Regions from separate parts of the Homo sapiens genome. Here region 2 is linked to region 1. The links come from fine-mapping of genetic effects on gene expression. Tissue or cell type: blood mononuclear cells. Region 1 holds a variant in brackets; the other region holds the start of a gene. All regions are shown on one strand. Distances are between the middles of the regions.

Region 1 (5,400 bases):
GGTTGTCTCCTGGAGAGGGAGTGGGGAGAACTGGGAGATGGAGCCGGGGGCAGGCTTGATCCAGACTGGGAGGTGCAGGAATGCCGGGGTGTGAAGAGCGTGGTCTTTATTCTGGGGGCTGGGGAGCCACAGCACAATCTTGAGCAGGGCAGAGGTCCTTTGGGAGGGTAAGCTCACAAAAACTCAGGGAGGCAGCTTGGATGCATGCACGCTCCGGCCTTGACCTTGACTGTGGTCTGTTGTATCCACAGCACCTGCATACTGTTTTTTCCCGTTTAAATGAGCTCACTTCATAAGAAATAAAACTACAGTGAAAACAACACTGGACACTCTTAGGTCTCATTGTTTTTTGTTGAGAAGGGAGGTGGTAAGGCAAGAGCGTGATGCTGAGGTGCAGGGAGTGGGGCTCTGTGGTATGTGCTGGGCTGGAGGCGAGAGTACGTGGTGGGGTGGCCCTGTCCTGAGTGACACCCTGCCCCCTCAGTACTACACCTGCAGCTGTGTCCTGGGCTTCATCGCCTGCTCGGTCTTCCTGAGGATGAGCCTGGAGCCAAAGGTTGTGCTGCTGACAGTGGCCCTGGTGGCCTACCTGGTGCTCTTCAACCTCTCCCCATGCTGGCAGTGGGACTGCTGCGGCCAAGGCCTGGGCAACCTCACCAAGCCCAACGGCACCACCAGGTGGGGTCCCGCCCGTCCCCGTCCCCATCCCCATGGTGGCCTGTTCATCTGGTGCCTGCCTGCTCGCACCAAGGGGCTTCTGTGTTCATGGGGAGTGGGCACCTTGCAGGGCGGGGCTGGCAGATGGTGTCCAGCGCTCAGAGCCGAGGAATTCACTGGCAGGTTCTTTAGGAAGTCCCTAGTCTGACAGAGGCCACCGGGTCATCCTGTTTCCAGGCCAGTCTAGTGGTGGGGAGGGAAGGAGGCTGCAGCTCTAGCTCTGTGCCTCTCAAGGCCACATCCTGGGTCTCGAGTTCTGGAAGGAGCAGTTGCTTCCATCTCTTCCTGGACAGGTGGTGATACCTGAGGCTGGCAGGGCTGGGGTGTGTGGTTCTAGGGGTTCTGGGTCCCAAGTGGATTAAGGAGCGGACCTGGCCCCCCTAAACAAAAAAGCTGGAAGCCTGGGACCCAGAACAGAACCTGCTCCTGTGGGTCTGCCCCGCACCTGCAAAATCCTTATGCCACCCATCCACCCCACCCCGCCTGCCACTGACCCTGGCTCACCAGTTCTGGGCTCCCTTCAGGCCCTCATCACAGCTGATTCTGGTCATTCAGGGGTGAGATCAGAGGTCTTCCCCACAAGGGCTCCCCCATCTCCCTGCCCACCTCTCCCCTCCCCCCTTTATAATACCCCAAAGTTGTCTTGTTTTCTACCCACCCCATTAGAATCAATTTTCCCCTTTCCCCTGGGTGTGCGTGGCACCTGGAGAGCATGACTCAGTGGGTTGGAGTGGTGAGTGCTGGGAGTGACTTGGGCCTCCCTTCGCATTCAGTGGCACCCCTAGCTGTTCCTGGAAGGACCTGAAGACCATGACCAATTTCTACCTGGTCCTGTTCTACATCACCCTGCTTACACTCTCCAGACAGGTAAGGAGGCTGGCCCCCCCCCCCCCCCCAAGCTCTGCCCACTTTTCCTCACCTCCATCTGGAGATGGGGTGGGGTGGGGTGGGCTCAGGTGGAGTAGCAGAAAAGACTAGAGTCCTGCCAGGAAAGCACTGGTCCCCTGGCCAGAGGCTCCAAGGACGCCAGGGACAGACAGACCTGGCTAGGAGATGCACAGCAGCACGGCTCCCACTTGCCTGTGGACGGGGCGCTTATGTTGCTGCCGTTTGCAGATTGACTATTACTGCCGCTTGGACTGCCTATGGAAGAAGAAGTTCAAGAAGGAGCACGAGGAGTTTGAGACCATGGAGAACGTGAACCGCCTTCTTCTGGAGAACGTCCTGCCAGCCCACGTGGCTGCCCACTTTATCGGTGACAAGTTAAACGAGGTGTGCTGAGAAGGGGCTGGGGCGGGGGCAGGGAGGCGGACGGTCCAGGCGCAGTCCGTAGGGTGAAGGTGTGGAGCTGGAGTGCATGCTGAGCTTGGCTTCCTCAGGTCCTGGCCTCACCGGGATGCCCAGGCGACAATGTATGGCATCAGCTGTGAGAGCATGGGCCTGGGGTCAGGGACCTGGGCTCAAGTGTGGTCGTGAACAAGGCACCTTGCTTTCCCAGGCCTTGGTCTTCACCTCTGTAAAATGGGCTGACAGCCCTTCCCCACAGGCTTGTGGCGAGGATGAAATGTGTGTTCAGGGGTTTGTGATCTGGACATTCTGTGTTGATGAAAATGTCTGTACTTCTACTAGTTATGTGTAGCAAGTTTTCTAGATAGGAAACGGAGGCCCAGTGAGAATGAAGACCTCCCGTTACCCTCCACTACTGCAGAGGTTCTCACCCCATGTGTACATGGAAACACCCATGGTGCTTCTGTGAGCAAAAACCAACCTGAGCCTGACCCTCCCTGGCCACCCAATTCTTAATCACCCGGTAACAGCCACCAGATGAAACTCATGCAGCCCGCCCCCCTCCCCACTCCCCGAAAGCTGGGCTGGGCAGTTCAGCAGTGCCATCTGCTCCTGAGGCCTTGCCACTCTTCCTGTCCCCTCAAGAGGTGAAGTGGTGTAAGGTCCGGTTTCTTCCCATCCAGGACTGGTACCATCAGTCCTATGACTGCGTCTGTGTCATGTTTGCCTCCGTGCCGGACTTCAAAGTGTTCTACACAGAGTGCGATGTCAACAAAGAAGGGCTGGAGTGCCTACGCCTGCTCAATGAGATCATTGCCGACTTCGACGAGGTACAGCCTCTAGCCCAGCCTTGCGCAGCAGCCCCCACCCATGCTGGAGAGGGAAGGGCGGTGGCACCTGCCATCCTAAAACCCAATTTAAAAATGTGACACAGAGCTGGGCAAGGTGGTCTATAATCCCAGCACTTTGGGAGGTCAAGGTGGGTGGATCACTTGAGGCTAGGAGTTCGAGACCAGCCTGGCCAACATGGCGAAACCCTGTCTCTACTGAAAATACAAAAAATTACAAGCTGGGCTTGGGGCGCACACCTGTAATCCCAGCTACTTGGGAGGCTGAGGCAGGAGAATCGCTTGAACCTGGGAGGCGGTTGCAGTGAGCTGGGATCACGCCACTGCACTACAGCCTGGGCAACAGTACACAACTCTGTCTCAAACAACAACAACAACAACAA[A/C]AAAAAAACGACGTGGCCCGCCTGGGGGGAACATACATTACACAGAATATAAAGGTACACATTTCTTTTTCATTCTGTTTTATGCAGCAAATAATTCGTTGGCATCTTCTCTGTGATGGGCAGCTTGCTAAGATTAGACTCAGGCCCCTTAGCTTCATTTCCAACTAAGCCCACGCTATCAACCAAGCCAAACAGAGGAAATCAGTTTGGGTTGAATTCTTTGCTGGAGACAAAGAATCTACATTCCTGTGTAGATAATGCTGTGTTTGCTCTGTGCAGACACAGATGGAAGGGAAGAGGGAGACAGTGTGGGGACGGAGACAACAGGAAGAGCAGGAGCCGCCAAGGGCCATGTCCTCACCATGCTTAGTCATGCGCTCAGCTGGCAGGGCAGCCATGAGACGTGTGTGCGAGAGGCGGCGATGGGTGGAGGGAACCCCACACCCTTCCTGAGAAGCAGGGGCAGCCTGGCTGCGGCTATGGAGTGGCGGCTGCTTCACCGCTTCCTTCTTGCCTGCAGCTCCTACTGAAGCCCAAGTTCAGCGGCGTGGAGAAGATCAAGACCATCGGCAGCACGTACATGGCAGCTGCAGGGCTCAGCGTCGCCTCAGGGCACGAGAACCAGGTACTCAAGCCCAAGAGGTGAAATTCAGCTGACTGTCCTCACTTAAAGGTGACCTGTCACCTTACTTAAAGGGTGTGCCCTTATCTCGTCCTGGGGGAGGGGCACAGGTACTTGTAGGGCTCAGCCAGGATTTTAGTGGTGGGGATCCTCAACAAGAGTGGCGCGCCAGGGCCCACTAGGTCTGGGGGCTCTGGAGATGCAAGGATCTGACCCACAGCCTGTCCCGCAGGAGCTGGAGCGGCAGCATGCCCACATTGGTGTCATGGTGGAGTTCAGCATCGCCCTGATGAGTAAGCTGGACGGCATCAACAGGCACTCCTTCAACTCCTTCCGCCTCCGCGTCGGTGAGCCCGGGTGATGGAGCGGGGTGGGGAGCCCCTGCCTCTAGGCCAGTCCACCCAGTCTGTGTGGCACAGCTGCACCTCGCCATCTATTATGAAAGGTTTTAGAAATCCCTCTGATCTGACAAGCTCAGCAGTTGGACAATTATTCTGATGTTTTGCATATAGTTAGCATATAGTTACCATTGAGAGTTTTAATAATACGTAACTACAGAAAATGGAGAACCAAAATTATTGTCTGTAAACAGGTGACCTTAAAATATAGAGAAGGAAGCAAAGTTACTAAACCTAAATAGTTGCGGGCCTGCGCTCAAAGCCAGGCCTTTGTTAATACTTTTAACAAAGTATTCTTTGTTAAAAGAGAGATTAGCAGATACAAGTGTTAACATCAAACCCAGACTTCTGAGTCTGAAAAAGAGCTGGCCGGGGAATGCCCTCCTCATACCCCAAGCCCGACTGCAACGCAGTGACTCTGGGAAGCAACCCAGCCTTCACTCTAGTTGTTTTGTCCCCGCATCCTGTGCTGGGGTATGGATTCTCTGGCCTCCTCTAAGGGCAGAAGCTTGAGGCTTTGCCTGCACGCTTGGGTAACTGTAAACATCATCTTCAGGCATAAACCATGGGCCTGTGATTGCTGGAGTGATTGGGGCCCGAAAACCTCAGTATGACATCTGGGGAAACACTGTCAATGTGGCCAGCCGAATGGAAAGCACTGGAGAACTTGGGAAAATCCAGGTAAAGACCTATTGGGGAAGCAGTTGACTAAGGGGAAAAGATCTTCCCCAGAGGTGAGGGGACTTGGACTTAAGAGCTGCTGTCTCACCCAGCAGCCATGGTTCTAGCTATCACACTCTCCAGGGAAGGCAGACTGCATGCCTGGGCAGTCTCTATCTGTCCCTACCATGACAGGTGTTCTTCCCGCCTCTGAAGACAACAGGTCTCTCTTCCTTTTCAGGTTACCGAGGAGACCTGCACCATCCTCCAGGGCCTCGGGTACTCTTGTGAATGCCGTGGCCTGATCAACGTCAAAGGCAAAGGCGAGCTGAGGACTTACTTTGTCTGTACGGACACTGCCAAGTTTCAGGGGCTGGGGCTGAACTGAGGGCTCCTGCTGGATTCCGAAAAGGCCGGGAAGCCAGTCTCCTTCCCTGAAGCAAGCCCAGGAGAAGACTCTCCGCCCCACGCCAATCCCAAAGGCA
Region 2 (5,000 bases), 56 kb after region 1:
ATAAAAAAGGAAGTAAAGAACTCAAATGAGTTTCATAAATCTTAGAGTTTGGGAAGAATTATTAAGCAATAACCAAACAAATGAAAGCAATGATCTAACTAGTTAAGATCAGATCTATATTTGCATACTATACTTGTCTACAATCACTTTAATATTGATTTAACCAATAATTGTGATGTACCTATACCTTGAGCAAGGGAAACTGAATTCTCATCTTCCATAACATGATGTCAGTAGAAGATATAAACTGCTAAATCAGTAAATAGCAATATAAACCTTTATTTTGAAATAGAAATAAGTAGGCAAGGAAAAATACCTAAAAAGTGTCCAGAGTGGAGCAGCAGCCTGCTTTGTGTCAAAAAGCTGTGTAGTACTCTTGACTTTTAAAAATCATCTTCACGAATTACTTTACTACTATTAATTAAAAAAAACAACTGGTTACCTCTGAAGAGGGAGTCTATGTGAAGGATTGGGGTGAGGAAAACTTTTTCCATTTTGTGTACTTTTGCACCACATGAACTACTTTTAAAAAATCAAATGCATATATGGGTTTTATAATTTAAGGAAGAAAACAAAACATTACTCCTACCTAGCCAAAGGTAATAAAAACTGGGACAAAAGGGAAGGAATAGACTTAAGAAATCCCCAAAATAAGATCTCTAAGACTTGGTGACTTAGCAATGTGTTCAATCACATGGAAGAGAAAGCTCCTCTTGTATATATAAACATAAGAAAAATTACATAACTAACCTATGAAAATTTACCTTCACAATAATTGATGTAATAAGTCGTTCAGTGGCAGGTTAAATTTGGAAAGTTAATAACAGTAATAACAATGTTATTATTATTAGAGACAGAGTCTCGTATTATTGCCCAGGCTGGAGTGCAGTGGTATGATCATACCTCACTGTACCTCAAACTCCTGGGCTCAAGGGATCCTCCCACCTCAGCCTCCTGAATAGCTGGGACACAGGTGCACACCACCAGGCTCTGGAAATTTTTGTAGTTTATTTTGCAGAGGCAGGGCCTTGCTATGTTGCCCAGGCTGGTCTCGAACTTCCAGCCTCAAGCAATCCTCCCACCTCGGCATTCCAAAGTGTTGGGATTACAAGTGTGGGCTACTGGGCCCAGCCATTAATTATTATTTTGCCCAGCTTTCAAACCAAGATGGTAGCTACTCATTCTTTTCTGTTAAATGCAAATGGTTAAGAATATCAATCTCCATTACAGGTTTCTGACCAAATTTTCTCAACACACTACAACACTGTTTTAAAAGATTTAAAGTTGCTCATTACAGATTTGGCATTATAATATTTATTTCAGAACAAACTTTAAACCCCAGTAGATCCCACTCGCTTCTGAAATGACTATTTTTGACAATCCTTGAACACTGAGGCTTTCTTGAGCATGACTTTTTACCCTGCCTAGATGGAAAAACCATTCTTTGAAGCAGCTCCTCAAAATTTGGACTTAGCTGCTTCCTCACCTGATGTGCGAGTACAATTGCCTAAGAGTATAATCCAAAAACGACTTGCTGAAACTCATAGATGATTCATGTCTCTATTCTGTCCTGCTCCTCCTCAAACGAGCCAGATCTTAGAGGCGTTTGTTTTCCCCAGATACAAAGAAAATAAAATGAGGTTGGCACCTGGAAGAGGCAGTGCCGTCCGCAAAGCCAAAGCAATGTAACCACTTGTACCTTAACTCTTCTCCGTTTTCTCCCCTTTTCTTCCCCTGGAATCTGCTTCTCTCCTTTCTTTCTCTTTTTCCGCTTTCTGTCCTTGTGTTTGTCATGATCGTTTTTGTCTTCGAAGAGGCTGGAGTCGTGCCCCGAGCTGCCCGTGGAGAGTTCGGTGACTTCGTTCCCTCCTACTTTGAGGACCAGCTTCAAGGGCTTCTCTACATACTCTTAAAAAAAGAAAAGAAAAGAAAGGAAAGCGCGTCGATTAAAATCGGGGCTCTCCAGGGAGTGCTAAGGATGCAGAGCGCCAAGGCGCAGCAAGCCCGAGGCGGCTTTGGGCGCTCCGCGAAGCACCTGTTGAATGACGGACCCCGGCCCGGGGGTGCGGCGGCGCCGCCCGCCCCGAACGCTCCCAGGCCTCCCGGGCCCGCCTCACGTCTCCCCACCAGAGACCCACCGGACCAGGGGGACCCGGGTTCGAATGCCGCGGCCGCACGGGGGGCAGCGCGGCCTCCGGCAGGACGCGCCCCCTTCGCCGGCCTGGGCCTGCCGTGGGAAGGAAGGGCCCCGGGCCGCCCCGGAGCCACTGGGAAAGAGCGGAAGCCCGGCAGAGCCGCCGAGGGCCCGCCGCCCGCACCCCGGCCCCCTCCTCACCCTCGTAGAGGTGTTTGTCCGACTTGTGCTTCTTGTGCTTCTTGCCCATGTCCGACCGGGCCCCGGTGCCCGCCCCCCGCGCCAGGCCCAGGCCGTGCGGCGCCGCTTCCGGTCCGGGCCAGGCGAGCGGAGGGCGGGAGCGGGGCCCGCGAGACCCCGCGCCGCGAGGCAGGGGGGCGGCGCGCGCCGGGCGGCGCGATGCCCCTCTCGAGAAGACGGCGCGCGAGACCCGGCCGGAGCCCGAGAGCGGCGGCGGGGGGGGCGCGCGGCCGGCGCAGAGGCGGGAAAGAAGGCCCGCCGCGCGCACAGGGTGCCGGCGGCTGCGGGTGGCGGCCCCTGGCGACCGGAGGTGGTGCTGCAGCTCGCGGGCCGGGGGCGGGGCCGAGGGCGGGGCCGGGGCGGGATCCACCGCTCAGACTCTCGTCTTTCTTCCTTCCTCCCTTTCCCCTCAATTTGTCTGTCTTGTCTCTGTCTCTGTGTGTCTCTCCCTCCGTCTCCACTTCCCTCCCTTCTTTTTACTCCCTCCCTCTCTTTCTTTCTCTTTCCCTTCTTCCCTTCCTTCCTCCTTCCTTCCTTTCTTTCTTCCCTCCTTACTGCCTCCCTTCAAGCCTTCCTTCTCTCTTTTCTTCCTCCCTCATCACCCTTCCTTCTCCTCTTCCCGTCTCCTTCCCTCTTTTTTTCTTTTCTTTTTTTCCCCTTCCTCCTTCCCCCACTCTTCCTTTCTTTCCACTTTCCCTTGCTTCTGTTTCTTCCCTTTTACGATATTGACTGAACCCCATACTGGGTGCCAGACCCAGCAAACTCAGCACATTGGTGACTGAAGATTCTAATCTTAAAAAAAACTTATGTGCTGATAGGTGAAGGTTACCAGACGTTTTGACTGTCTTTACTTCTAGCTGTATGGTGCTTTGTCTGTTTTCAGATAAGCTCGTAATTATAGTCTCCTCTTAAGAAAGGATCTGTTATCAGTCATTTATACTTTAGTAACAATTTAGACCCATGAATCACCTCTCCCAGGAAGATTTGTAGCTTTACCTTGAACTTCAGTGGTGAAATTATAGGCTTATATTTTAGGACCCTATTGTTGGCAACTAATAGAAACCAATTTGAATTATTTCAAGTAAATAAAAAGGGATTTATTGGTTTACATGTCTAGAAAGGGCAAGAATAAAGCTTGCCAGAGGGAAGACAGGAACCAAGGATGTAATGCTGTTGACTGGCATGCCAGCTCGCTCTCTCTCTTGTCTCTCTGTATATCGGTCTCCATCTCCCCCCTTCTTTCCTATATGGCTGGAAACATGGCCACCATCTGCTTCTGAGGCCTCTTCTTTATAGTGTCCTGACCAACTGGGAAAAAGATCTCTTCCTGTCAGCTTCACCTGGAAAACAGTCCCAGGGAAGGACTCTGATTGGCTTGGCTTGTGTCACATGTTTTATGGGACAGGGGATGGGAGATTGATTCGGCCTGGATGCCAAATCTACCCCCTCACCCCCTTGGCCAAGAGAAGTGGAGTCTGTGATTGGCAGCTCCTGCCAGACTTCTATGGTTAGCCAGGGAAGATGAGGTTCTTCTAATGAAGAGAGTTGCTTTTTCATGAAAGCTAAAAGTGTGTGTCTATTATTTCCCTGTAACAAGCCTCTCTGGTGTCCGTGAGGCAGAGATCAGGGTGTGGGAAGAGGGGTTGTGTTGGGGAAGAGACCTTCTGCTGCTCTGAAATCAAGCCAGCTAGGCCCCCTAGGCCCCCTAAGCATAGGGCAAAGCTTGGTTTCAGCTTTTCATCCACTGTCTGTAACTTATTTTGCTTTAAGAACCACTATGCCAACTCCCACTGTGGGTCTGGCCTCTATTGTGGCATTGCCTTGCTCCAGGCTCAACCTGTGGGTTTACCTGTCTGCTCCTCATTACCCTGGGTACCTCCTTGGTACTTACAGTGCCTAGCACAGTGACTACTACTGTCCAAATGCCCCTCAGAGGAAAAAGGTCTGGTGAACTCATCCATACTATCAAGTTAGTAATTTCCCTACCCTCTCAAGAGTGATTCTACATAGGTCACAAAGTGGTCACATCAATGGAAAGTGAATAAGAGTACGTAGCAGAAAACACCTCCCAGAAAAATGTTCCTGGAAGTGGAAGCCCAAATTCATCTAGTTTTAAATTCTCAGCACTAATACCATGCCTGGCACATAGAAGGCACCAGAAAATGCTAGTTGAGCTGCACGGTCCTGGTTCGGGCAGACTCCCCTGAGAGATTTCTGCCTGCTGCCATTCATGACCTCCCAGTGAGTGTAGAATGGCCTGGAGACTGGCTTCAGAGCAATAGAATATGGCAAAGATGATGGACGTCACTCCTGTGTTGAGGATACATAAGACTTCAGTCTTACTTGCTGACCGTCTCTCTTGCCTTCTTGGCTTGCATGTTTTGATGAAGTAAGCTGCCATGCTGGAGAAGCCCATGTGACAAAGACCTGAGGCTGGGCCCCAGTTGACATCCGGCTACAACTGAGGCTATCAGTCCAACAGCCTTGAAGGATTGAATCCTGCCAGCAACTGTGTGAGCTTCAAAGTGGATCCTTCCTCAGTGGAACATTCAGATGAGACCTCAGCCCTGGCTGACATCCTGATCACAGCCCTGTGAGAGTCCCAGAAGCAGAGGCCCCAGTTAAG

Evidence for each region. PIP is the estimated chance that this variant, and not a neighbour inherited with it, causes the effect.
Region 2: it holds the start of BRD7, and the variant in region 1 is fine-mapped to the expression of BRD7 in blood mononuclear cells (TOPMed, PIP 0.91).

What each region holds. Positions count from the first base shown.
Region 1 is chr16:50,310,203-50,315,602 of GRCh38, forward strand. It overlaps ADCY7 (adenylate cyclase 7), which reads left to right. Exons shown (of 26, transcript NM_001114.5): 19 at 485-678; 20 at 1,491-1,584; 21 at 1,834-1,989; 22 at 2,688-2,834; 23 at 3,756-3,860; 24 at 4,090-4,204; 25 at 4,812-4,936; 26 at 5,157-5,400. The coding sequence ends at 5,303. Among named protein-coding and RNA genes, the nearest start is that of MIR6771, 20 kb to the left of the region's middle. RefSeq lists an enhancer at 3,230-4,429. The variant A/C (reference allele first, on the strand shown) is at 3,236.
Region 2 is chr16:50,366,391-50,371,390 of GRCh38, forward strand. It overlaps BRD7 (bromodomain containing 7), which reads right to left and starts at 2,598. Exons shown (of 17, transcript NM_013263.5): 1 at 2,336-2,598; 2 at 1,700-1,908. The coding sequence starts at 2,384. RefSeq lists silencers at 1,987-2,496, 2,527-2,776.